4 linked regions of the Homo sapiens genome follow. The protein of the gene in region 4 purifies or fractionates together with the protein of the main gene of each other region. This does not show direct contact. Each region holds a gene or a part of one and is shown on either strand. Other genes may lie near its edges. The genes, in order: MTCL1, PPM1G, ZNF644 and ZNF223.

Evidence for each region.
Region 1: the proteins of ZNF223 (region 4) and MTCL1 purify together in Homo sapiens (affinity purification with mass spectrometry; 2 studies listed by BioGRID and IntAct, with this or other methods). This does not show direct contact.
Region 2: the proteins of ZNF223 (region 4) and PPM1G purify together in Homo sapiens (co-immunoprecipitation; 2 studies listed by BioGRID and IntAct, with this or other methods). This does not show direct contact.
Region 3: the proteins of ZNF223 (region 4) and ZNF644 purify together in Homo sapiens (affinity purification with mass spectrometry; 2 studies listed by BioGRID and IntAct, with this or other methods). This does not show direct contact.

What each region holds. Positions count from the first base shown.
Region 1 is NC_000018.10:8,700,653-8,708,560, forward strand, and holds the start of MTCL1 (microtubule cross-linking factor 1), read left to right. Parts: upstream 1-4,903; 5' UTR 4,904-5,008; coding exon 5,009-6,061; intron 6,062-6,105; exon of another isoform or gene 6,106-6,487; coding exon of another isoform or gene 6,488-6,613; exon of another isoform or gene 6,614-7,484; intron 7,485-7,908. UniProt on the Homo sapiens protein: Microtubule-associated factor involved in the late phase of epithelial polarization and microtubule dynamics regulation.
Region 2 is NC_000002.12:27,380,699-27,385,620, forward strand, and holds the end of PPM1G (protein phosphatase 1G), read right to left. Parts: intron 4,391-4,922; coding exon 3,975-4,390; intron 3,395-3,974; coding exon 3,254-3,394; intron 2,903-3,253; coding exon 2,668-2,902; intron 1,908-2,667; coding exon 1,778-1,907; intron 1,531-1,777; coding exon 1,428-1,530; intron 1,108-1,427; coding exon 901-1,107; 3' UTR 501-900; downstream 1-500.
Region 3 is NC_000001.11:90,977,012-90,984,040, forward strand, and holds part of ZNF644 (zinc finger protein 644), read right to left. Parts: intron 5,360-7,029; 5' UTR 5,343-5,359; coding exon 5,299-5,342; intron 1-5,298.
Region 4 is NC_000019.10:44,055,028-44,062,056, reverse strand, and holds part of ZNF223 (zinc finger protein 223), read right to left. Parts: intron 6,949-7,029; 5' UTR 6,881-6,948; coding exon 6,866-6,880; intron 1,603-6,865; coding exon 1,476-1,602; intron 1,309-1,475; coding exon 1,216-1,308; intron 1-1,215. UniProt on the Homo sapiens protein: May be involved in transcriptional regulation.

The sequences.
Region 1 (7,908 bases), on a different chromosome or scaffold from region 4:
CACCTCAAAATAATAATAATAATAATAATAATAATAATAATAATAATAATACAGCTTTCTGGGCTCATATCTCTTAAATCAGATCCCTGGGGATGTGGCCAGATAATTTGCATTTTTAACAGTCTCACCAGGAGATTTTAATGACCTCAAGGTTTAAGAGCCTCTTAAGTTATTGTCATTGTCACCACCAATGCCATGCACAGCTGCCAATCTGGACATGAAGCCTTTTTCAGGTCCCATGTGGCATTTTGGCAATCACCCTTGCAAAGAGAGCTGGGAGGTCCCCACAGACCCCAGTGTTGGATGCAGACTCCAGCTTCAACCTTGGCGGGTGGTGGGGAGGCGGGGGGATCAGGCATTATTAGGTTGTCTCTTTTTAAGGTTAACTTTCTTGCAGTGCCCAAAAAGCCACTCACTCTGAAAAATTCCCTCTTCTTTCCATTCTTTTCAAAGAGTATGATTTCATGATTTCTCATGACTTCAACCAGGAATGCTTTCATATTTTAAATGTGCCTTTCTGTTAAAATAAGGGGAAAAACTGGAAGATACACATATGCCTGGGTTTGGACAATGTATTAAAGGTATAGAAATTCTGCATATAATTCTGCCTGGGAGTATAGAGTGAAGTATAGTCCTGAGTAAGTCACATTTTTTTTTTTGTCTATGAGTCAAACCAAGTAAAAAAAGAATTCATTTCTCTTTATATAACTGTATAGACACAGAATAGATTTCTAACTCTCTGAGTGAGAGTTTGGAATCTGAGTGAAAAATCTGGTTTGCTCATATTTTAAGAGTTTTGAAGATTATTTCACTGGTGTTAAATAATGATGATGATTCTGAAGATTATTTCACTGGTGTTAAATGATGATGATGACTTGATAACAATACCTTACCCAAGGCCACACAGACAGCAAATGACTTGGGCAGGATTTGAACCCAGATTTACCTGGTGTCAAAGCCTCAGGTCTTGTCACCATACCACACCGTTCTTGGACAAAGAGGTTGTGAACACAGCCACACAAACATTACTCATCACACCACTGCTGCACGCAGCTCCCTAGGACAGTATTTGGGCCTCTGCAGAGGAATGAGACGATGGGGCCCTGGGCCTTGTGCCAGCATTTACAATCCAGGGTTGCAATGCAGGGAATCAGCCACAGTGAAGCAACCCGGAGATCTGCAAGCACAGGAAGGCACCACCACCCTTGATACGAGGCAGTGGAGGACGAAAAGCTACCAGGAGGAGTAGTCCATCCAGTGATGGCTGGAACCTCAGAAATCCACTCCTCACAGAGACCCAGCCACTGCCAGAGAAGCCGCCTGCAGCAGAGAGAGTAAGAAATAACCTGGTTTCTTCCTTCTGGGTCCACTCCCATCTCCTGACGGCACCTCCACTGGCCAAACCCAATCAGCAAACCCAGCGGCCTGGAAACCCACACTTCCACTCACATCAGAGTAGCAGAGGGGCAAGACTGGATCTGAGGGCACGCAGATGAAAACAGGCACGCCCATGCTGGGTTTTGTTATTTCACAGAATAAGCACTCTATGGTTCCCTTAAATAGTAAATCCTCTATTACCTTTAGATTAATTTGATTTAACAGAAAAAGAATTTAAAATCAAGTATTTCCTTTCTTTGCTCCCTCCTTCCCTTCCTCCCTTCCCTTCCCTTCTTTCCCTCCCTCCCTCCCTGCCTCCTTCCCTCCCTTCCTTCCTTCCCATTTTTTTGAGACAGGGTTTCACTCCCATCACCCAGGCTGGAGTGCAGTGGCATGATCATGGCTCACTGCAACCTCCCCTCCTGGGCTTGAGGGAGCCTCCTGCCTCAGCCTCTCAAGTAGCTGGAACTACAGGTGTATGCCACCATGCCCAGCTTATTTTTGTATTTTTGTGTTTTTTTGGTAGAGACAGGATTTTGCCATGTTGCCCAGGCTGATCTCCAACTCCTGAGCTCAAGCTATCTGCCCACCTTGGCCTCCCAAAATGCTGGGATTACAGGCGTGAGCCACCACGCCTGGACCACTTTTTCTTTTTCTTTTCTTTTCTTTTTTTTTTTGAGTGACTTTAAAAAACATCTATTATGCAATCAGATATCTCTTTATACCTGTAACTCACTGAATACTGGAAAACAAAGAAGGCATTATTGGCTGGGCTGGGTGGTGCATGCCTGTAGTCCCAGCTACTTGGGAGGCTGAGGTGGGAAGATGGCTTAAGCCCAGGAAGTTTGACTTCAGTCTGGGCAACATAGCAAGACCCCATCTCTTAAAAAAAAAAAGGAAGAAAAAAGAAAAAAAAAGAGAAAGCATTGATTGAATACTTCCTTACAAAGGGCTAGTAGTCTCATTTGCCAGGCTAATAATAAGTAGTAAGGAGGATGAATTTTATCTGACTTATTACCTGAAAGAAAGAGAAGCTGGCTGCAAATCCTATAGTCATCAAGCTACTGTCTTTAGAAGACTAGCGTATTGAAACTTTTTTGGGGGGCCCTTTCTTTGAGTGTATATGGTATGAGAAGCTGGCAAGCTTGTGCTGAGAGTCCTGGCCATAATTCTTCGGAAATGTGAGGGTGTGGGAGGCTTCAGAGCCTCTGGAGGAAGTTCTAGGCAGAGGTCAGTTGTGCTCTGGCCCGACCGCGGGCCCCCTCCCACGGAAGGGCAGAGCTAGAGGGCCCTCTGGGGACAGCAGGCCCGGCGCGAGCGGTGGCCAACACCTCTCAAGCCTTTCGAGGTGTGCCGTCATCCACGCCCACCGTGGAGCCAACAGTGTCCTTCTCCCAACGCTGGAGAAACGGCTAGGGCATTAGCCTCAAAGGAGATTAAGGAATTGGATTTCGTAGAGATTGGATTTCGTGCGTGCTGTCTCCCATTCAGAGGCATTCCCAGAAAAACGACTCACAAAGACCACAACAGCAGCAGAGCAGGCGAGGTCTCAGTGCCCCCAGAGCTCAGCCAGGGCGAGGCAGGACGACTTCGGGGCAGGGCTCTCCTGACGTAGGGATTACAACAAAAGGGTTCATCCTGCATTTTTTGAAGGAGATGGCTAAGTAGGGTAAATCTGTGGTTAAGATCACAGACTTTGGAGTCGATTTTTTCCTCCTATTTTTGCGAGTCGGCCCCCTCTTCTCTGTCCCTGCTCCCAAGGCCCCCTCACCGCGCATACTGCCACAGCCGCTCGCAGCTCCCGTGGCCCACCTCCCTCTCCTCCAGGTTGCTGCCCCCGGGGTCTTTTTGAGCACATCAGATCATCTTGCTCAGAATACCCCGTGGCTACCGCCTCTAGGATAATGCCCAACGGCCTTGGTAGGATATTTGGTGCCACACACCCTCCAGTCTCCCCTCTAATCCCTAACCTACCTGCCTCCCCGCCCAGGGGCCCTGCTCTCTGCAGGCTCTACTGTGTCCTGGGCCCTCAGCTGAGAGACCAACCCGTCCTTCCAGGAAAATGCGAGCCTCACCAGGCAGGGTTATGCTCCCGCCCTCCTCCTTGTAATTATTACCTGACCCTCTGCCTCCTGCAACGCCAGGGCTGGAGGACAGGCTGGCCCCTATTCCTATGGGCACTGGCCAACATCCAACGCCTGGGACATAAACTGCACCCAATGGTATGTGAACTGTACTTTACAGTTTGCACGGTGTGTTCTGGTATTTGCTAAATCTTCACACATGCTCAGGTGGCAGTACGTTTTAATGATACAGGCGAGGGAACTGGGGCTCAGAAAGGTCTAGTGCCTTGCGCATGGGAGACTCAAGTGGTAGAACCGGTGGCCGGGCTCCGGGCTCTGAGCGGAAAGCCTGCAGGACTCGGAATCCTGAAGACCTGGGTTTAAACCCGCTCAGCTAGGGACTGGGTGAGGCATCGCAGGCAAGTGACTTCACCTCCCAGCGCCGGTGCCCTAGTCTTCACCGAAGACAGCAATTCCAATCTGGGACTGTGGTGAGGCTTAAATAAAACACTGCTCAGTAAGTGGCCAGCAGGCCTGGCTCGCAGCCGGAACTATAAATGTGAGTTCCCTTTCTGACCCCCAGGTTTGGCGAGGGCTCCTCCTGTTTGGGCAGCAGCTCCTCCTGAGCTCCCGAGGCCACGGGGGTGCCAACTGTGGAGCGCCCGCCGTGCCGTTTAGACGCGAGAGCTGCGTCGGGTACCAGCGATCCTTAAAGGAGCTCGGGGACCAGGGGCACAGCTTGGAGAGGACAGCGAGGGAGGTGACTGGCCTCGGGGAGGCGGGCGGTGGATGGAGAGGCATGAGAGGGGTGTTGTCAGCCGCGGCACACGCCTTCCCCAAGTGGCCGGCGCCGCCCCTTGCCACCACTTCACCTCCGCCTCTTCCCTTCCTCCCTAGCTCCTGGCAGCGTCTCTAGGGCCTCAAAAAGCAAGGAGGGTCCCCGGGCAGCGAGGCCCCATGGATCCAGCCTGCGCCTGCTCCCAAGGGCGCGCAGGTCCCGCCCCTGCCGGGCGCCCGCCCCCCGGGGAGCGCAAGCCCCCGCCCCTTCCCTCGCCCCTCCCCTGCACGGCGCCGGCTGGCTGGAGGCGGGGCATGCGCACGGGCCTGGGCGAGGGCGCTGGGCGGCGGGGAGGTGGGGCGCGCGCGTGCGGCTTCTCTCAGCCGGGAGCGGCGGGGGCGGGCACGGGCAGCAGCGGGCCGGCGGTGGGCGGGGAGCGGGACGCGGGAGCCGGGCGCGCGCCGCCAGCGCCGCCGCGGCACCGGTGACCGCGAGCCCGGAGCGCGAGGTCCGGGGATGCGAGCGGCCGGGAGCCGCCGCGCTGCTGAGCCGGGAGAACTCGATCCGCGGTGACCTCAGCGAGGGGCGAGCGCGGCGGCGGCGAGCCCCGCGGGAATCCTCGGGGCCGGGGTGCGGGGGGCGGGGACGGCGGGAGCGCGGGGCGCAGCCCGGGCGGGGCTGGGACAGTGATGAGAGAGCGCGCGGGGAGGCTGCACGCCGCCGCCGCCGCCGCCGCCGCCGTCGTCGTCCGGAGCATCTGCTGCCTGAGCTGCTGCCGGCGGACCCGGCCATGGAGACACTGAACGGCCCCGCGGGCGGAGGTGCCCCGGACGCGAAGCTGCAGCCGCCCGGCCAGCACCACCGCCACCACCACCTCCACCCGGTGGCCGAAAGGCGGCGGCTGCACCGTGCGCCCTCGCCCGCCAGACCCTTCCTCAAGGACCTGCACGCCCGGCCCGCCGCGCCCGGCCCGGCCGTCCCCTCCTCGGGCCGAGCCCCGGCTCCCGCCGCCCCGCGCTCGCCCAACCTCGCGGGCAAAGCGCCGCCCTCGCCGGGGTCCCTGGCCGCGCCCGGCCGCCTCTCTCGGCGCAGTGGCGGCGTCCCGGGCGCGAAGGACAAGCCCCCGCCGGGCGCCGGGGCCAGAGCGGCGGGCGGTGCCAAGGCTGCCCTGGGAAGCAGGAGGGCGGCGCGCGTGGCGCCCGCGGAGCCGCTGTCCCGGGCTGGGAAGCCTCCCGGAGCCGAGCCGCCGTCTGCCGCTGCCAAGGGCCGCAAAGCCAAGCGCGGCTCCCGGGCGCCACCCGCCCGCACCGTCGGCCCCCCGACCCCGGCCGCCCGGATCCCTGCCGTGACCCTCGCGGTGACCTCGGTGGCCGGGTCCCCGGCCCGCTGCTCGCGCATCAGCCACACGGACAGCAGCTCCGACCTCTCTGACTGCCCCTCCGAACCCCTGTCCGACGAGCAGCGCCTGCTCCCTGCCGCCAGCAGCGACGCCGAATCCGGCACGGGCTCCAGCGACCGTGAACCCCCACGAGGAGCGCCGACGCCGAGCCCCGCAGCCCGAGGAGCGCCGCCGGGCAGCCCCGAGCCCCCAGCGCTCCTCGCCGCGCCCCTCGCCGCGGGCGCCTGTCCCGGGGGCCGGAGCATCCCGAGCGGGGTTTCGGGGGGTTTCGCGGGGCCCGGCGTGGCGGAGGATGTCCGGGGGCGCTCGCCACCGGAGCGACCAGTCCCCGGGACCCCCAAGGAGCCCAGCCTGGGCGAGCAGTCTCGGCTCGTGCCAGCGGCGGAGGAAGAAGAGCTGCTGCGGGAGATGGAGGAGCTGCGCTCGGAGAACGACTATCTCAAGGTGAGCCGCGCCTCGGCCGCAGGTGTCCCGGGGCGCCCCCGGAGGGCCTGGCTGCGGCGGGGACCCGCCAACCCCTCCTTCCCGGGCCTGTCCAGCGCCTTCTCCCTCCTGCTCTCCACGGTCCTACCCCCGCATTGTCAGGCATTGGCAACTTAAGCCCAAACTTCTGGAAGGAGAAGCAAGACCTGTGGGACCCCGCCAGTTCGCAACCCACTTCTCTTTTCTCGCGTCTAGAACTCTTGCGTCTCTTCGCTGATACTTTTACTTTTGTTGACCTGTTGGGGCAGAGGAGGCTGTAATCGTTTTGGGGACATCAGCGGACGCCCCCATCCCCGCTCAGAACGTGCCAGCCTCACCTGTAGGAACAGGTGATCCTTCGCCAGGGAGCTCTAGCCGGGCCACGTGCGGGCGTGGCGGTTCAGGATAATGCCACTGGAGGGCCCCCGGCTACGGACCCGCTTGCCCCTTCTCCTGCAATTACGGAAAGAGCTGGGGGCTCTCAGGGTCTCCTGGGCTCCGACATCCCGGGTAGAGGGGGCCGCGCCGTTTTCGGTGAGCAAGCTGAAGCTCAGTAGAGGTCCTTGGAGTGTGGCCCGGGTTGAGGAGCAACGGTGTTGCGCGGGCCAGTCCTTTGTAAGCATCCAGGAGCCGGCTTTCTGTGTCAGGAGAGGCCACGCCAGCACTTTCTAAGGAATCGCGGCGCCTGCTGCACTCTCTGAGTATTTTCCGGCAGGGCCTGCGGGCAGTGGCGTCTTAGTCGCCTTAGCACTGGGTGCTTAATCCGGCTCCATCTTTTCTCCACGGAGGGGGCCTGGTGCTGCAGACGGGGTTCCCGGGGTCAGGACGATCCAGGTGACTTGAGAGAAAATAAGGGGAGTTGTATTGACACCAACTGTTTTATTTATTGTGATCTTCAGGTTAGTAAACAACTCCAGTGGCATCAATCTGTGTATCTGTTAAGTCTTAATGAGCAGCCAACCAAACCCAGGGGTGTGGCCCTGCTTCTTCAGTGGGTTATGTGATTTGAGCTGTTTTCTCAGCAAATGATGAGCTAACCAATACGGGCCCAGTTTTTGGCTAGTGAGATTGAGGATTGGGCTTTAAGGTGCATGGTGGTGAAGTCTGCAGTTCACACGGAAATCAGAGCACATTAACTGCTGGGTGATCTCAAGCCTAAATTTCTTATGGAGCTGCTCCAACCAACTGAGCCTTGTGGTTATTTTACTTTGTGCAAGAAGTAACAGTGAGGCAGAGAAAGAGAGGTGATAAAAGAAAGATTGGGACTTAAAGCAAGATATTTCAGATAGTATGTTTGTTTTTGTCACTTACTCTTAGGTAATAGACAACGGAGTGAAGTTCAAAGGCAACTATGTTGTGGGTGACTCCATCATGAAAGCAGCTCTTTTGTAAATCTTCAACAAATGTAAGCTCCCTGAGGGTGACCAAGATAATCTTGTTGTTTTTGTATCCCTGGCTCTTAGCATAACCCCTGACTTACTTTCTGATTGAATGATGTTTATCCAAATGACTGCTGTGCAAGGGAAAACTGTATTTCTTTAAAGAAGTTTCTCATTGCATCTTTGATCTTAAGGTAGGCTATCCATCATTTTGAAGTTCATTCTTGGTGCAACTGGTTATTTCCTTTATTTTTTCCCAATGAATGAAATGTGTCTGAGCCTGGAGTCTGATACAGTGTATTTGCTATTTCACTGGATCTTCCCAACAACATAGGGTGGTGGTGGTGGTATCATGATCATAACTAGTATTTCACAGACGGAGATGCTGAGAACCTAAAACAGAAATGACTTGGCCAAGGTCATAGAGTGAGTAAGAGGTGGCACCTGCGT
Region 2 (4,922 bases), on a different chromosome or scaffold from region 4:
CCGCCGCCGCCGCCGCTTCCATTCATGGAGCCCCCTACCCCCCTACGGAGACCAGCTGGTACCTCCGTACTCGCTTCCGCTTCCGCCGCCGCAGAGACGCACGGGACGCGTAGTCCGTGGGAAGCGGCCGCGGCGGGAGCCTCAATGGCGTGACCGGGAAGTGATTGTGACGAGGCGGGGAGCAAGCCAATCAGCGGCAGCGGGGAGCCGGCCAGGGAGCAGCGCAGGAGGCGTCCTGCCCGACTCCAGGCTTCAGGCCAGCCAGACCGGTCCCAACCTGTCCCTGGGGGAACTAGATCATTTCTGGCTGCAGGAGGGGGCGAGGGGCAGCCGCGACGCCCGCCAGGCCGGCCTACCAGCAGCTCGCTCTGGGCTCTCCTATACACGCGCAGGACACACACGAGCACACGCACACACTCACATGGGGGCTCGCCACATGCTACAGATGGGACCAAGTCGGGGGCCACGGCAGCAGAAAAAAAAGGACACGATGCGTACGATTAGGTTTTGGCCTTTAGTCTGAAAAAGTGTTGATTGAAAGTGTACAACAGAGAGCGGGTGCAAGCGGCCGAGGGCCATGGAGCCGCCAATAAAAAAGAATGTCCTTAAATAAAGTTCACAGAGTAAAAACCAGAACCGCCAGTCCTTCCCTCCAACACAACAGAGCACAGGCACAGAACCGGTGATGAGCCCGAGGAGCAGAGGCGGCTGGGAAGGACAGCAGAGGCTCCCGGCTGCAGTGTGGAGGGAGAGCCCTCTTTGGAATGGGCGGAGTGAAGCCACCCAGCTCCCCCTGCACACCTCATACCCACTGCTAAGGCTAAAGGAAAAAGACAAAACTCAGTCTCAGGTCCGGAGGGCTCAGAAAACAGTCTAGGTGGGCAGGGGTCTGGATGACTGCTAGTCTCGCTTGGCCTTCTTCTTCTTGTCGCTGTTGCCATTTTCTTCAGCCCCCTCAGTAGAGAGCACCTCCTCTAGTTTTCGCTTGCCACTCTCTGGCTGGAGCTCTGCTGTGTTTCGGGGCTTGAAGCAAATGATGATGCAGGTCATGTTGTCACACCCTGTACCATCCCCAGAAGTGTCTGGTGCCAGGCACTGATCCAGCAGCTAAGAAAGGGATGGGGGTAGCTCAGCCACAGGGTTTGAACACCTTGCCAGGAATCTACAGTCCCACAAGAGGGCTGGCTTGCTGAGTCAGGGTGGTAGGAGAGGAATGGGCAAGAGGTATCACACAACGGCCCACCTGCTAGTCCATAAGGCATAAGGCTAAGTCAGGGAAATGACAGAAGGTGGAACTTTGGAGTCGGGGTTTAGCGTCTGTCAGCAATTACTGATAATGCTCCCAGATTGCCGACTTAGCTCAGATTAAAAGAGTGAACCCTGGCTGTGCAGACCAGACACCCTCTCTTCTCCACCCTGGTACTCACCTCTTCCACAATGGATGACAATAACCGAAGCTCCCCATTTTCATCACGCTGGCTGATCTTTGATTGAATGAAATCTACAACTTCCTGGCTGCTCATCACATTCCTGGGGTCAAGAACAACAGTCAGAATCTTCCAGTCTCACTAAGGCAGCGTAGAGGAGTATGGACAGAGGTGGTGGCCCAGGCCAGTGTAAATAACTACAGAAATTCTCAGCTCTGCCTTAGTCTGGGTGCTCTTCACCCACCAAGAGGCCTAGGTCTGCCTAGGCTCTAATCCTAGAGGTGCCCTGAGTCCTATAAGAGAAGACATGCTGCAGAAAGGGGAATTTAGGGCATTCTGCCAGTGCTCACCAGATGCCATCACAGGCAATGACCATGAATTCATGGTCGTCAGTGAGAGTCAGCACCTTGATGTCAGGAAGGGCTGAAATCATCTGTTCCTCAGGTGGCAGGTTCTTGTTTCTCTTATAGAAGTGGTCCCCTGGAGTAAAGGAATGGTTGATGAGCAGTTTGGATACTTCCCACAGACTTGTGTTTGTGGCAGGTCAAACCTTGCCATTCATTTCCCTTCTTTACAAAGTTCCATAATCTAGTGGAATGGGGAACTGAGTCCTAAGTCCTAGTTTTTCTAGTTTCAACCCTGCCACCAGACTGCTGAACCTTAAGAAAGTCACTCACTGGTCTTTTTATTTTAAGTCTTTTTTGTTTTTTTTTTTTTGAGACGGAGTTTCACTCTTGTAGCCCAGGCTGGAGTGTAATGGCACGATCTCGGCTCACTACAACCTCCGCCTCCCGGATTCAAGCGGTTCTCCTGCCTCAGCCTCCTGAGTAGCTGGGATTACAGGCTTGCACTACCATGCCCAGCTAATTTTTGTATTTTTTTTTTTTTTTAGTAGAGATGGGGTTTCACCATGTTGGCCAGGCTGGCCTCGAACTCCTGACCTCAGGCGATCCACCAGCCTCAGCCTCCCAAAGTGCTGGGATTACAGGCGTGAGCCACCACGCCCGGCACTCACAGGTCTTTTTCATCATTCAAATGTTACATAAGATGGGTATAATGATACCTATGTATAATGATACCTCTACCCATCTTAGTTATTTCACAGAAATATAAGAACAGAGGTAGTAGATATTAAAGTGCTTTGAAAGGCACAAGCACTAGGAAGATTAAAGTTTGCTACTAGGTAGTCTGGGACAGAGAGAAAGACCCTAGAAGTCTTTCCCAGTTTCTTGGCCCTTACCAATGGCTCTGGAGAGGTTGAGGCCCCCGTTGACTCGCCCATCCATGGTGACCTTGCCACCAGCATTCTTGATGCGTGCTAGTTCTACTTCATCCTCTGGTTTGTGATCATAGGACATGTCTAAAGCTTTGCCAGCCTCAGATACCACACAGCGAGAGTCTCCTGCGTTGGCTACAATCAACTGCTTCCCTCGTATCAGGGCCACCACCGCTGTTGTACCACTGTCAGAGCCAGGCTTAAGAGGAAGAAAAGGAGCATCATGGGGGCTTCTGAACATGCGTTCCTCACTGATGTGCTCCTGATCGTTCACCTATGCTTGCTTTCACTGGGACCCCCAAAAGAGCTTTAACAAACAGGAGAAGCACACATTTCATCTTTCTAGAGACAGCAGCACACTCCCTCTCCCTTGTTTTTAGATAATTCAACCCCAAAGGCTTACCATCTCATTCCCCTTGCAGAATAAATCCCCATGACTATTACTTCCATCCTAAAGTATCAGGGGGATCCCCTGTCTCAAAATCAAAATTAGGGGATTCACACCTGCCTTGTGGCTTTTCAAGACTCATTGCTCCCCTTCCCCACACACCTCCTCTTTGCCTTCCATCCCTGGCACCATCATCTCTTCTTCTTCTTCTTCATCGTCCTCTTCAGCCTCCTCGGTGTCATCCTCATCTTCCTCATTCTCTGCCTCCTCACTGCTGTAGCCATCCTCTTCCTCGCTGCATTCCTGCCAGGGGGAGGATCCCAGACTGCTGAGACTGGGATGATCCCCTCCCTCCCCACAGCTCATACTCAGAATCAAGAGGTCCTGACTGAACACAGGTCCTCAAAACACTGAAAGATACAAGTATATGGTCATGAAAATTGGGGGGATGGAAAGGGCTAGCATGAGTACAACTGACATCCTGAACTGGGCTTAGCAGTCACTAGCAAAAAGCCCAGGACAAGGCAAGGGCTGCCAGCCAAAAATATCTTTCAGGCACTGTGGCCAGAAAATAAATTTTCCAGAGAAGAAAACAGTCAACTAGCCAAGGTAACAACTATCTCCTTGTTCTCTCTCTAGGAGACAGACTCTGAAAAGCCAGAACTAGATCTGCTTGTTATAGTACCAACAAAGGAAGAGGTAAAAAGGCAAATGGTACCTGTGATGATGGAGCTCAATGAATTCAAGACTAAAGCTTAGAATACAGTGGGTCTTGGGGGATGATGTCAAAATAGGAGAAGGAAAGAGAGTTGAAAACTACAGACGGCAACCAAACAGGACCTCTCTGCAACTTCAGCATCTGCCTGCCCTCACAGGCCCTTACCTCACTGTCTTCCTCTTCTTCCTCCGCCTCATCTGACTCATCCTCACTGTCCTCAAAGAACTTGGACTTAGCAACTCGAGGCAGCTTGTCAGAGGCTGAAGAGCAGGAAGGCCCAGCCTCACCAGTGGGAATGCCAGGCTCACCAACTTGGCCTGCCTCAGTCCCACGTTCCGAGTTGGAGGAAAAGCCTGTGTAGGCCTTGGCTGTGGGGCCATTTTCTTGTGAAGGAGTTTCCCTAGTTGAGTCCTCAGGTCCTGCCTCCCCATTGAGGCCCTGGGACCCTGGTTCCTCGCCTGTCCCACCTCCAGATTTGCTGTGGGGAGGGCCCTTGTGACAGTTCTGCCCGTAGCGTGTCAGCAGCTCTTCAATAGTCATGGTAGCCTCTTCATGCAGCAGTGCAGCCTCCTCATTGTCCACTGCAGGGAAGAGGCTAAATCAGAGCCCCCATGCCAGACTCCTCATGGGATCCGTCCCTCTCACTACCTCAACAGCCCTTGCAGCCTCTAACTTCCCCACAACCTCCCACTCCCAAGGTTCCTCTCGCTCAAGTCTCAGAAGAACATGCCCTAGCTCCTCCTCCTCCACAGACTTCTTTTGGTTTTTGTGTTTCATCCCCTTCTTAATCAAAACAACACTAGTTACTATACTTCCCCTCTGACGTCTCATTTTTTATTGTTAAGTTGTAAAAACCCTATTCTGGCTGAGGATCCAGGAAGCCCACAATGCTACTGTGAATTAGGATTTAGGCTTAATGATTGGCTATTGGGGCTAATAACTGCTCCAGTCTTGAGGGGAAAAAAAAGCACATAAATACTAGCAGGAACCAGGAAGACCCCATCACAATGACAAAAGATAATGTATATACAATGCTTACAGCTCAGATGCCACTCAACGAAGATAATTCTCTCCCTCCTTTTCATAACCACATACAATGCAGGAGAACATCAT
Region 3 (7,029 bases), on a different chromosome or scaffold from region 4:
AAGTATTTAAGTTTTCTAGAATTAAATACTTAAAAAAAAAAAGGAGTTCACTCACATTAAAGCTGGAATTAAGACTAACAACTGTAGCTTATCATACATAATAAGGATAGTAAAAAATAACCACAAAGAAGCAAAGTATTCTAATGATTGCGTTGTAAAAGACATCAGATTTTAAGCAGTCTGCTATCAATCTAGACTTAATGAACCTAATATTTAGTAATGGCTTTTATTTTCTTTTTATTTACAGGCTATGCTGATGTTAGTTTGTAGCAAACTATAAAGAAATTTACCATAAGGAAATATTTATCCTAAAAAAATAGTATGAAGGGAAAAAAAGGCAAATAATCTGATTATTCAATATTAAATAACTTTGACTGTAATACCTAAAACACAAAGGTATGTTAATTGATGGAACTGATGGACTTAACAGTAAAAAATAAAAATCTTCACATATATTCTCCAACAGAACTTAAGTTGTAATGAAGGTGATATTTCAAACCTTTGAGCACTCTCACAATTTAAAAAATGCCCAGTAAAATAAATACCACTTTCCACCAATTAGACTAGCAAGGATAAAACAAATATTTAGCAGAATGTGGGAAAACAGATATTCTCATAAACTAGCAATAAGAGTATTAAGTGGTACAACCTCATTGCAGTTTTATTACATCAGAAGTTAAAGGGCACATATCCTTGATCCAGCAATCTACTGCTACAAATTATCCTGACACTCTCACACACTCCCGTTAATACCATCAAAAATATTTATTGCAGCAGTACTTATATACAGGCAAAAAATCCTGAGACTTACCTAAATATTAATAAGGTAACAGTTATAATAAATGTGGTAAATATATGGAAAAATGTCCAAAATATATTGATAAGCAGAAAGAAAAAGATGTAGAATACATACCAGCTATTTTTGGTAACTTATGGGGAGTATAGTGCTGGGTGGGAGAGAAGAGTTTTACTTTTTACTTTAAACATTGCTGTACTATTTGCTCATAAGGTCACATGTGACTTTTATAAAAAATTTATATTTTGAAAATACTAAATGTGGCCAGGTGCAGTGGCTCACGCCTATCATCCCAGCACTTTGGGAGGCTGAGGCCGGTGGATCGCCTGAGGTCAGGAGTTTGAGACCAGCGTGGCCAACACAGTGAAACCCCATCTCTACTAAAAATACTAAAATTAGCCAGGTGTGGTGGCATGCACCTATAGTCCCAGCTACTCAGGAGGCTGAGGCAGGAGAAACGCATGAACTCAGGAGGCGGAGGTTGCAGGGAGCCAAAATAGTGCCATTGCACTCCAGCCTGGGCAACAAGAGCAAAACTTTGTCTTAAAAAAAAAAAAAAAAGTGAAATACTAAATACTAACTGTTACTTGGCAATACAGCTGGAAAGGGTCAATGTACGTTGTACAATCTCATCTAGAATGAAGGACAAAGAATTTTATTAATTAAAAAGTCTTCTTTTTCATGCTACAACAAAGGGCAGCACATCTACAATGCTACTAAAGAAACTGAAGTACAGAGAGGTTAAGTTAGAAATTAGAGAAATTAATCTAAGACAAATATCCATAAAGAATTTCAAATCCTTGGATTCGGGGATTCTGCAGTCTTAGCAGCAGCTGCCTATGTTAAATATTGAAGCACAAAATGAAGACGAAGACTCTGCAACGGAGGTACAGCTAGCAGCCTCTGAGAAGAAAAATTAGTCTAAAGTCTTTGTGGAGACATGTAAGTTAGGCAATCTCAAGGTTAAATTTCTCTGGCTCCTCAACTCTAACCAACAACATGACTAAACACACTTCACAATCAGGATTTAAAAAAAAAAAAAAAGAACCAAGGTCTATATACGGTAAGAATCTATGTCTAAGAAAACCCTTGTGGGAAGACAGAAGGAACAGCATGAGAAAATGTCAACGTCTAACTCTGTGTTCAAACATTATGGCAGAAGCTGCAGAAAGGAAAAGCAACAAATTGATCCCTGTGGGGAAGAACCTCTTCTTGCTTTGGACTTGCTAGAGGGCAATCAAGCTTCAGGCATAAAAATCTCCAGATGATTACTATAGCCAACCCAACTAGCCAAATTTCAAACACAGAAAAAAAAAGAACCACTAGTCAAAATGCTTTAAAATTTAAGAAGTGTGTTATTTCTTAAGAGAGTATATTGTTTAGGCCAGGTGCAGTGGCTCACACCTGTAATCCCAGCACTTCGGAAGGCTAAGGAGGGTGGGTCACCTGAGGTCAGGAGTTCGAGACTAGCCTGACGAACATAGTGAAACCCCATCTCTACTTAAAAAATACAAATTTAGCTGGGTGTGGTGTCGCATGCCTGTAATCCCAGCTACTTGGGAGGCTGAGGCAGGAGAATTGCTTGAACCTGGGAGGCAGAGGTTGCAGTGAGCTGAGACTGTGCCATTGCATTCCCACCTGGGCAACAAGAGCGAAACTCCATCTCAAAAACAAAACAAAAAAAGTATATAGTTTATATATGCTACATTACATATCTACAATTTAAAAAAATTTAAGTACCTTTAAACAAATAGCAAGCTTCCTAAGCTGTGGGAATCAAAAATGTTATCACAGTTCCAGGCTATGATTCTACAATTTCTTCCTCCATCCTAACAGTTTTTTACCTTCAGAGAAATAAGGAAAAGTTTTCTTCACTTCTTACACGTGTGACTAGTGTTCCCAATCTTCTACTTGTATTAGTCTAACATTCCAAAATCTTTAAAGAAATAACTAGTACAAACCCACAAAGAAAATACTCTTCATAGCAAACACTTCAAATTTCTGCAACATGGATTAATACCTCCACTTGGAAATACTAATCAAAATCAACAATGACAGTCTTACTTTAGGTCTGAATTAAGAATATTTTACTAGCCACTGTATTTCAACTGGATTGAATGAAGACTTGGGAAATATTTTATTTCTCTTTCTAAAATGTCTATAATGCTGTCTGTGGATTATCCTCAGTGGCTCCTTCCTATGGCCCAACAGCAACTCAAGTGCCAATGCCCCCATCCCATTCCAGCTAGCATTCTGAATCTCTATTTGCCTGGGAGAACTCTTTTCATTGGTCAATGTTTAACAAAACATTTACTGAATGCACACAGTATTCCCAGCACTGTGCTAAGATAAACGAGACATGGATGGTATCTACCTTCAAACTCATACTCTAATAAAGAAGACAAACTACGGCCAGGCATGGCTTAAAGGATCAGATGATGCTTCAGATAGGCTATTTCAGAAGATAAGCTGACAACTAGCAAAGAGGTCTCTGGCAACTGGGGAGGCATGGGATTGAGGGAAAGTGACAACATGTACCTAGGACTAGAACTAGGAATATGAAACATCATACTTAGTTTATTCATATAATCCTCAGCATTCTGGCATAGCTACGGTGAGATAACTGCATGCCGTGTTATAAGGTTTACTACATTTTATTCTGAAAGTGATGGGGGACAATTAAAGAGACAGGTAGAAGAAGGAAAAGAGTATAAAAAAGTTAGCAAGTAGGAACAGAGATATGGAGAATCCAATAAACCAAATCACTGAGAAAACATAAATACTTTGTAGTGTGTTCATACAATGGAATATTACTAAAAATAAAACAGCAATAAAAAATAATGAACTGCTGACATAGTCACAACATAGATGAAGCTCAAGAACATTATGTTGAATGAAAAAGCCACATACAAGAGTACATACTATATATAAAATCCAAGAACAGGCAAAACTAAATTATGCTGACAGAATTCAGAAAGATGATTACTTCAGGGGAAAAGGCTATTAGACTGGAAGCGGGGAAAGCACAAGGAACTTTCCAAAGTAATGAAATGTTCTATATCTTGATCTAGATGGTGGTTACACATATGAATGTGTATGTGAAAAGTCATTCAGCTCTATACCTCAAATTTTATGTTACCATATATATGTAAACTATACCATAATAAAAAAGAAAAAACTACATATATAAGCATGGTGAAAAATAAGGTCAGAATAAGTTAAACCAGTGTCATCCCACAAGCAATATCAAACATAGAAAATCAGAACAAAAGTTTTAACAGACACTGTATATTCAACTAGAAAACAAACCCTAATAAGACCTTCAAGTACAAAAGAATGGCTTCTTCTCCACTTTAAGAAGATACATAGGCAAGTGTTATTTCTAATAAATGCTACAGAAGTAAATTATTATTCCTAAAGAAAAACAGCCCACTATAAAGCAAAAAATAAAATTTTTCTACACAACAAGAGGAGGTACTATAACGATCAATAAGGTATGACAAGCACTTAACAGAATTTAGAGCACAATAAGTACTCTTCAAACTACCACTACTGTTATTATTATATAATAGCAATAAAAGCAAAATTTTGCTTCAAAACATGCCCAAACCACTGACTGAGATTTCCTTCAGTGCATATTACTGAACTACAGCACTTTTCATCCTAGACTTTTTTTTTCTTTAACAAACATTGAGATCAGCAAATTTTTGACAGCTGAAACATCTGGTTAGAGGGAAAACCAAGTTAACTCCAATTTTTTCAATGTTCTTTTTCCCTTGTTTCCATTTTGAAGCCATATTCACTTACCAATAAATAGTAAATGTATCTTTTTAAAACATGTCAACGGCTTATATTATTAAAAAGCATTCTTTCACATACCAAAGTACATGATGCCAATTCAATTTTTTAAAAGTGAACAGCCTTAGAAAGCTAATCAGAATGCTATATTAGAGAGGTCATTCAGTAGAGACACCCACTAGGAAAACATTAAAACAATAATTTACAATTTTGAATACTATATTAACAGAAAGAAATCACAATTTGGCAAATTTATCCCATTTGGGAAAGTGCTTCCTTAACATTAAAAATGAAGCAAAATTCACAAAAGCAATGACTATTCATATACTTTATCAACAAAGGAGAGAACAATGAAGTGACACAATAAATGTCTTACTGAAGTGGTCAGAGTTCAATAAGAGTGGCTGAACCAAACATTAACTTGATTTTCTAACATTTTAGAATATTCACTGGAAACTTGAATGCTTTAGTTAACCTCAACACAAAAGAAGGAAACTAAAAATTTAGTTCCACAATGTGATAGTTATAATTTTACTCCCATCAAATCAACTGGACCAAGTGTGTCAAAAAGTCAATTATTTGCATTTCAAAATTTTATTTAAAAACTCTTTGGTTCTGAACTCAACACCACATTTTTAAGACATAATTTTTTTGTATTATTCCTACCTTGATATGTACATTTAACAAAGCAGTCTTCTACTTACCTAGATTTTGTCTTATTAACATCTTGCTGCAAGAACGATCTCATCCAAAATTAAATCAAACCTGAAAGAAATACACACAATGACCAAGGTTTAATTTTTTGTTTCAGGCATGAATAACCATAGCTACAATACACTATTATTTTAAATGAAAAAACACAAACCAAATTATATTTCTTGATATAACATAAAAAAACCATTCAACCAGAATACCATCATTTTAATCTTTAGGAAACTATTGCTAAGTGCCCCCCAACCTCACTGCTTTTTTTGAGAAATAATAATCTATTCAAATGAGAAATTGAAACTAATTCTTTTTTTTAAAAAAAATTCTAAATTGTTTTCATTAATTTTAATAGTATGGCAATGGCAATAATTAAAATAATTACTAAAACACACATCTTTCTAGATCAGTATTTATTTAATATTATGTACATATCAAGACACACACCAAACAGCTGAAGACAAAAATGTTATAGTATTGGAACACATAAAAGTATATACACATAAAAGTATATAACAAAGTAATTTGTTAGAGCAACCACAGTAATTATCATAATAGCCAACACTGATTACTTACTAAATGCCAAGCATCATTATTCTAGAGAATAGAATGTATCAATACTCCCCATCTTCAATTTAATCTTTAATCTAGTATAAAGTGACTTCTACACCAACAATCCACTGAACATGCATTTGCCAAAAATATATCCACCATTACTAATTTTACCATATTTCAGAACTTCTGAAAACTCAGTATGTCCCACACTCTACATATCTCCTCCTCCCCATACCTGAAACTAGCTTGTGACTCTTCTAAATTCTCTATTCTTTAAAAAATAGCACCACCACACCTACCTCTGTTCTCAAGCTAGGTTACTTTAACTGTTTTATTTCCAAACTATCATCTCTGATTTGTCCTTCCTAGAACCACAGACCTAGAATTTTCTGCATCGTATCTAGAAAAGATGAGATATTTTCTCTGCCACCCAATGCCATCATCTCCCACCAACCCAGAAGTGGACATGGGGGCCTGTTAAAAACTAAACTATAAAATAAAAGTAAGAACATTAAAAGTCTATTATAAACGACTGAGTGGGATAAGCTGAACTATTGCCCCACAAAAGACTTCCACACCCTGATCCCTGAAATCTGACAATGTTACCTCATATGGCAAAAAAAAAAAAAAAAAAAAGAAGAAGTCTTTGTAGATATGATTAAATTAAGGATCTTGAGAGGGAGGATTATTCCGAATTATCTGGGTGGACCACAGTGCAATCACATGTATCCTTATAAGAACGAGACACACACTGAAGGCAATGAGAAGACAAGCGGAGAGGCCGGGCACAGTGGCTCACACCTGTAATCCCAGCACTTTGGGAGGCCAAGGTGGGCAGATCACCTGAGGTCAGGAGTTCGAAACCAGCCTGGCCAACATGGTGAAACCCCGTCTCTACTAAAAATACAAAAGTTAGCTGGGCGTGGTGGCACGCGCCCGTAGTCCCAACTACTCAGGAGGCTGAGGCAGGATAATCTTGCTTGAACTCAGGAAGCGGAGGTTGCAATGAGCCAAGATCACGTCGCTGCATCCAGCCTAGGCAACAGAGCAAGACTCTGTCTCCAAAAAAGAGGAAGAAGAAGAAGACATGGCAGAGAGAACTGAAAATGCTGCTTTCGTAGACTGGAAGGACATGGGCCATAGCCAGGAATGCCAGCACCCACCAGTATCAGGGA
Region 4 (7,029 bases):
GGACTATTCTAGGCACTGAAGATGCAGTCATAAACAAACAGATAAACACCTTGTAGAGATTATATTTGAAAGGGAACAGGTGATCTATCAGTAAACAAAAGCATATGACACATAATACTTGCAGGCCAAGTAAAGATAGGATGGTATTTTCAATAGGGTGCTTGAAGATGACCTCTTCCATGACATTAAAACTCAGCAGACACCTGCATAAACTAACAGAGGGGGTCAGTAAGTTTTGTGGGAACAGAGGACTCCAGTCAGAGAGAAAAGCAAGTGAGGGCCCTGAGGCAGAAGCTTCTGTGGTAGGGAACATAATTGTTCCTGAAAGATGTCCACATCCAGCCTTCAGGACCTATGATTCTGACACATTACACAGCAAGGCAGATTAAGGCTGCAGATGTCATTGAAGTCACTAATCAGCTAAGCAGAAAGTAGGAAAGTCAACTTGGATCATACAGGAGTGATGAATACAACCACAAGGGACCTGAAAGGTGAAAGACATAGGCATAAGAAGAGTGGCAGAGGGAGCATGACTCTGGAAGAATGGTCAAGGATGCAATGTAGCTGCCTTCAAAGATGGAGGAATGGAAACTAGAGCCACGGAGTGTGGACAGTGTCTAGGGACTGGTAAAACAAAGTGAAGCCTTCTCCCCATGAACATCCAGAAAGGAACAAAGCCCTAAGACAGCTTGATTTTTTCCCAGTGAGATGTGTCAGACTTCAGGCCTAAAGAACAGAGAAATAATAAATGCTTCTTATTTAATCATCTAAGTTCGTGGTCATTGGGTACCAGCAACAGGTGATACAGTGTCCTTGGCAGGATGGAGAAATAAGAGGGATGACAAGGTGGCCAGAAAAGATGGAGAATGAGGGAGAGTATGGGAGATGTAGTCAAGAAGCAGTGAAAAATGAAGAGTAGACCACAGGGGTTTCTAGAAGCAACTTAAAGAGGCTTTCATAAAATTAAGAAGACAGAAAGGCTCTTAAGCTGAGGAATGACAATCTGACATCCATGTCCTAAGGATCACTTTAGCTGCCATGAGGAGAACAGATGTCAGAGTGGGAAGGCACGGAGCAGGGCCACTAGCTGGAAGGAGGTTATCATAATCCAGCAAAGATGTTTGGCCATTTAGAAGAAGGTAATGGAGTTGGACGTGCACAGAAGTAAAACAGATGGAAGTCACAAACAAGGACACACAGTTGCGTGCTTCTTACCTGAATTCCCTTCCCTTTGGGTTGCTATATCCATCATCCAAAACTTTTCCTCCCTTAGAAAGTGGAAAGTATCTCGGTGGAATGGTTGATGCCCTGTAAACAGGAAAAGTCACATGCTTAATCCCAACATATTCTAGATAATATCACGGTAACACTTATTGGAAATTTAGGTTCCCACTGCACACTCAAACTTGAACACCCTAGGATACAAAACCACTCCTGGGGCCTGACATTCCCTTATAGAAGATGCCTGTCCTCACCCACTGACAGCAGGTTCCTGAAGTTCTCCAGCATCACATCTCGATACAGCTTCCTCTGGGCAAGGTCCAGCAGCCCCAGCTCCTCCTCAGTGAAGACCACTGCCACATCCTTGAAGGTCACTGCCTCCTACAGCATCAAACATATGCAACCTCAATCTCACTACCAATGGTTACTGGGAGAGAAGGAACATTGAGGAGGCCAAGAGGAAAAATGGAAAGTTTTTCAGGATCTTCAGAGATGTAGGTCAACTTATAGAATTCCCATTCATTCTAGTCTGTGTCCTGACAATGACACACCTTGATTGTCCCAAGCGTCATCAGAAGTCCAACGACAAAGAAGTCTTGTGGTCTTATTTAGTGAACTCATTGAGTTTACTTGTATGTAGCCCCCTAGGAGTCTAAATGCTGCATACTGGGCTACACGTATATAGGTTTCAATGAACCTTGCTAATAGTCCCAGCGACAGTGAGCAATTCAGTCAGTATCTGCCCGACCTGGCAGCCGGTTGATGAGGCTGTGGCTGTGAAACCCCAATCTCAGTATTCCCAATAATTATTTTTCCTTTTCCCCTTTATAATGCACATCCTGTTGGTAATTTGCGGTTCAGATCACCGCGGTAACTGACAAAGGTCCTCCTGACTCTAATCTGGAGGTGATGCTTTCCTGAACATCCCCTGACTTCTATGGGATCCCACAGTGGTGAAGAATGAGACCACGGAATACCATAGGGGTCACCAGGGTCCTTCTGATGGTACTGGGGACACCTGATCCCATTTGGGTGGCTGGCACTAGCAGGCATTTTTTGTATAGGACGTGACGTCCCTTCCTGACTGAACAACTGAGGCAGGAAGGTCTGAGCCAAACAACCAGGGGAATGGATGTCTACAATGGTAGTAGCCTCAGGACAGGGACAGACAGACTGGGTCGCTGCACCACCTCAGCCCACCCACTATCCAACAGCTATTAATCTGCTGTTCCCCCAAGGATATGGCAGCAGAGGCCTGGAAGCACAGCACATTCCTTATCTCAAGCTGCAGTCACCTCATGTCACCTGGCTAAGTGTTCCATCTGCTACCCTGCATTTATTCTATCACCAACCACAGTGACCCTCTCATCCTGACTATGGTAAACCACACCAGCATCCTTCATGCCACAGTGCACACCAACAGCTCCATAACCCTGGCTTGTCACGTCAGAACCTGGCACCTGCCACATGAGAGAGAGCTGGAGGGCCCTGTGGTAACTGGTGTAAGGCAGCAGAATCACACAACCTCAACAAAGCTACAGTGGACTGTGCTTTCTCGCACCATGTTCCTTTGATTACCTGGATGAGAAATGTTCCACATAATGAAAACCAGGACTGGATGAGTGGTATTCCTCTCTGTAAGGGCCGCATGAATGTCATACTGGGGGAACTGACCTTATGCAACTGTGCCAAAAATGAGATGTGGCTGGCAAAAGATAATGTCCCCATTCCCACAAATGGGTCACAGAACACCCAAACAAGGGAATGGGTGCTGTGTGCACCTGAGCCTTATGGCTTTCTCTGTGGTTGGTTTGGAGGGTGACCCAGATACAGGGTGGGCAATGTCATGCCTGGAAAGCTGGCAGACTGTTAGATCCCAAACATTAGGCATGCTGGGGGTGCCCCTAGATGTCACCCTGGAAGCGAGATGCACCACTGGGCAAGAAGGCTAAAGCTGTGCCCCAGGCTGACTGGGGACCTGCCTGGAGGTGCAGCTAGCTCCAGATTTATGTCCTACACCTACAAGTGAATTCCCATGAAAAATGATGAGACACCTGCCATAGGCAATGGCCGATAGATACTGTTTATTCCACGGCCACTGCCTTGGGAGCCCAGCAACATCCCTTCACTCCCTCAGGAAGGTTCAAAAAACACAAGTGCTCTGTGCTTTTAGCCCTACTGGGAGGAGTGGGTCTGCAACTGCCAACACCTCCGGCCTTCTCTGGATACATAGCTATTGTAAAAACTCAATGAGAGGCAACCCAGAAGCAGGTCCACTGGCTTCAGACACTGGGGCCACCTGAATGATTCTTCTTTGGTATCTTCAGCAGCTTCTTATTTTGATAACTGGGACCTGGGCAGGATTACTACTTCAGGAAGGTCTGGCTGTGCTGCTTGTGGTCATGCTCCTCTGGGGTCCACGGAATGTATTCCAGCTATAATTCCATGAAGTTGGCAGAGATTGTGTCAGTCAAGGTGTTACACTGATCTAACAAGATCAGGGGAGGCCAGGGGAGGTCGATGGACATATGAAATGGACCAGTTTGCTAAGAGGGATATCTGGGTCAGGGGATGGACTGCAGGACAGTTGGGGTGCAGACCCCACCCAGCTCTCTCCCCTTTATTGCTTGTAGTTCTCAAGAATAACTGTAGATTATTCTAAGAATGCAATATTATGGGGAGGAACTGCCTTTGACAGTCTGGGCTTTGTTCCTCTCTCACCTGGAAGGAAGATGACCTTCAAGTTTTTCTCCATGAGTCATGGCACCCTGAAGTATATAAATGGGGGCAGGTTACCTTCTGGGGTGCCTCAGCTCTGGTGCAAGTGGGGCACATACAGTCAAGATTCCATCTGCTCCAGGTAGCTTTCTTGAGCCCTGGATGGCCAGCTCATACTGGACCCTAGGCTTCTGGGCTCGCCTGCTGCCAATCTGTAGTAATAAATCTGCTTCATGCAATCTGTTGCGTGTGAATGTGTTCTGTCCCACAGGACTCACACGAGTTGGTAATCAGTGCACAGTGAACCTGCTCCATGGTACCCTGAGACAGTTATGCAGTGTGTCTTCTGTACTCGCAAGGCACAAACCACATATGCTTATTGCAGCATTTAGTGTCCTGATCAGAAGCCAGAATGCCTCAGTGCACATTCTGAGAGTCTGCCCATTTCTAACCATGTGACCTCAGACATGTTTTCCTACAAGGCTTGTTCCCTCTCTGAATAATAGTTCTTACATGACAAGAGTTTTTTCAAGAATTAAGAAAAGAAATATACGGTATTTTGAAAAGTCTACGGCACAGACTGTTTAATGAACATTAGCTGGTATTACTTATTACTGTTATTACCATTATCTATTTCAGGGTTCCATAGTATTCCAGGGAACTGATGATCTATTTTTAGCTACACTAAATAATAAATATTTAATTTCACATATTTTCCATTATCAGTCCGGCCAAGATGATATGGTAAGTAGTAAGATGTAAGAACATCTGACTCTGTCTCATTTAAAATAATTTCATATGAAAATTAAAATGTGAAAAATAAGCACATTTAATATTATCATTATATAATTGCATACTTTCTTCTCACTTTTTTCCCTACCTCTCTAATCATTCAACAGAATACAAGTACCCTAATTCTCCTTATGATAGCCAAGAGCAGTTTATAAATATTCCCATGGTTTTGTAATCTGATTAGGAAGAACAATTCATTCTATCATTCTCACTTATTATTATAAATGAGTATCACCACTTTTCAAGATTATTGGCGATCTCTATTTCTTCTTTTACAATTGCCTTTTAGTATTCTTTGTTCCAATCTGTTTGAACTTTTTTCTTTATCCTTTTAGAAGATTCTTATTCTGGATTTATTCTTCCTTAACTATCCAAGGGGTAAATATTTTTGCCCCAGGTTGTCATTTTTTCTGGTAACAATGTGTGAGGCGGGCCGGGCACGGTGGTTCACGCTTGTAATCCCAGCACTTTGGGAGGCCGAGGCAGGCAGATCATGAGGTCAGATCGAGACCATCCTGGCTAACACGGTGAAACCCCGTCTCTACTAAAAACACACAAAAAAATTAGCCGGGTGTGTGGTGGCGGGCGCCTGTAGTCCCAGCTACTCGGGAGGCTGAGGCAGGAGAACGGCGTAAACCCGGGAGGCAGAGCTGGCAGTGAGCTGAGATCGCAACACTGTACTCCAGCCTAGGCAACAGAGAGAGACTCTATCTCAAAAAAAAAAAAAAAAAAAAAAAAAATGGTGAGGCATTTTATGCCATAAGGAGGAATTTAGGGATTTTTTTTTTTTTTTTGAGACAGAGTCTCACTCTGTCACTCAGGCTGGAGTGCAGTGGCGCGATCTCGGCTCACTGCAAGCTCCGCCTCCTGGGTTCACGCCATTCTCCTGCCTCAGCCTGCCGAGTAGCTGGGACTACAGGCGCCCGCACCACGCCCGGCTAATTTTTTTTTTTTTTTTTTTTTTGTATTTTTAGTACAGACGGGGTTTCACCATATTAGCCAGGATGGTCTCTATCTCCTGACCTAGTGATCCACCTGCCTCAGCCTCCGAAAAAGTGCTGGGATTACAGGTGTGAGCCACCGCGCCCAGCCAAAGAAAAAATGTGTGAGGTATCTTGTGCCATAAGGAGGAATTTGGAGATAAGAACAGCTGTGGTAATCACTGTCCTTGGGTACTTGGAACAATGAGTACACCTGAGTAGGTGCCAGGTCTGGAAAAGAAGAGGTCACACCAACGCAGGACAGGGAGAAGCAGCGCCACCTATGGATGTCATCACTCAAGGGAGCACTCCAGACATCCACACAACAGGTCACCAGACCCTCAGTGGAGAATTTTTCTTTCTTCTCGTCTCTCTCTTTCACTTGAGCAGAATGGCTAACATTCCTGTTCCTTGATTGCCTCTGATTTTGAGCAGGTTTCTCATATTTCATGAGTTTAGGAGAAGAGATCAGGAACCTCCTCATTCTGCTGCTTTGAGAAGTAAATGAGTGACAGTACACAAGTGACTGGCCAATCTTCAGTATTACTAGACTTTTTTTGTTTTGTTTTCTTTTTTGAGACAGAGTTTCACTCTTGTTGCCCAGGCTGGAGTGCAATGGCCCAATCTCAGCTCACTGCAACCTCCGCCTCCCGGTTTGAAGTGATTCTCGTGCTTCAGCCTACCGAGTAGCTGGGATTACAGGCATGTACCACCATGCCCAGTTAATTTTGTATTTTTAGTAGAGATGGGGTTTCTCCATGTTGGTCAGACTGGTCTCGAACTCCTGACCTCAGGTGATCCGCCTGCCTCAGCCTCCCAAAGTGCTGGGATTACCAGTGTGAGCCACTGCACCCAGCCCAGTATTACTAGCCATTTTAAATGAAGGCTTTCTGGCTGGGTGCGGTGGCTCACGCCTATAATCCCAGCACTTTGGGAGGCCGAGGCGGGCAGATCACTTGAGGTCAGAAGTTCGATACAAGCCTGGCCAACATGATGAAACCCCATCTCCACTAATACTACAAAAATTAGCCAGGTGACAAGAGATCCTCAAAGTCCTGCTGTTCTCCTTGAGTCTTCCCAGGGCAGAGAAAAACACACAACAATCTGAGTAGTGAGATGGAATTTTAACAGTAAGAGAGGCAAGTCCTACTTACCTTGGACATGGTCATTTTTCCTCCTACTTTAGGGAATTTGCAGAGTCCTGAATGACACAGTTCCAGGGAAAGCAGAATTGTGCCTGGAAAGTGCCATGAAGACAGAAAAAGAGACATGAAAGGGTGGCCAGGGATGTCACCCACCAACAAGGACTCATATTGTC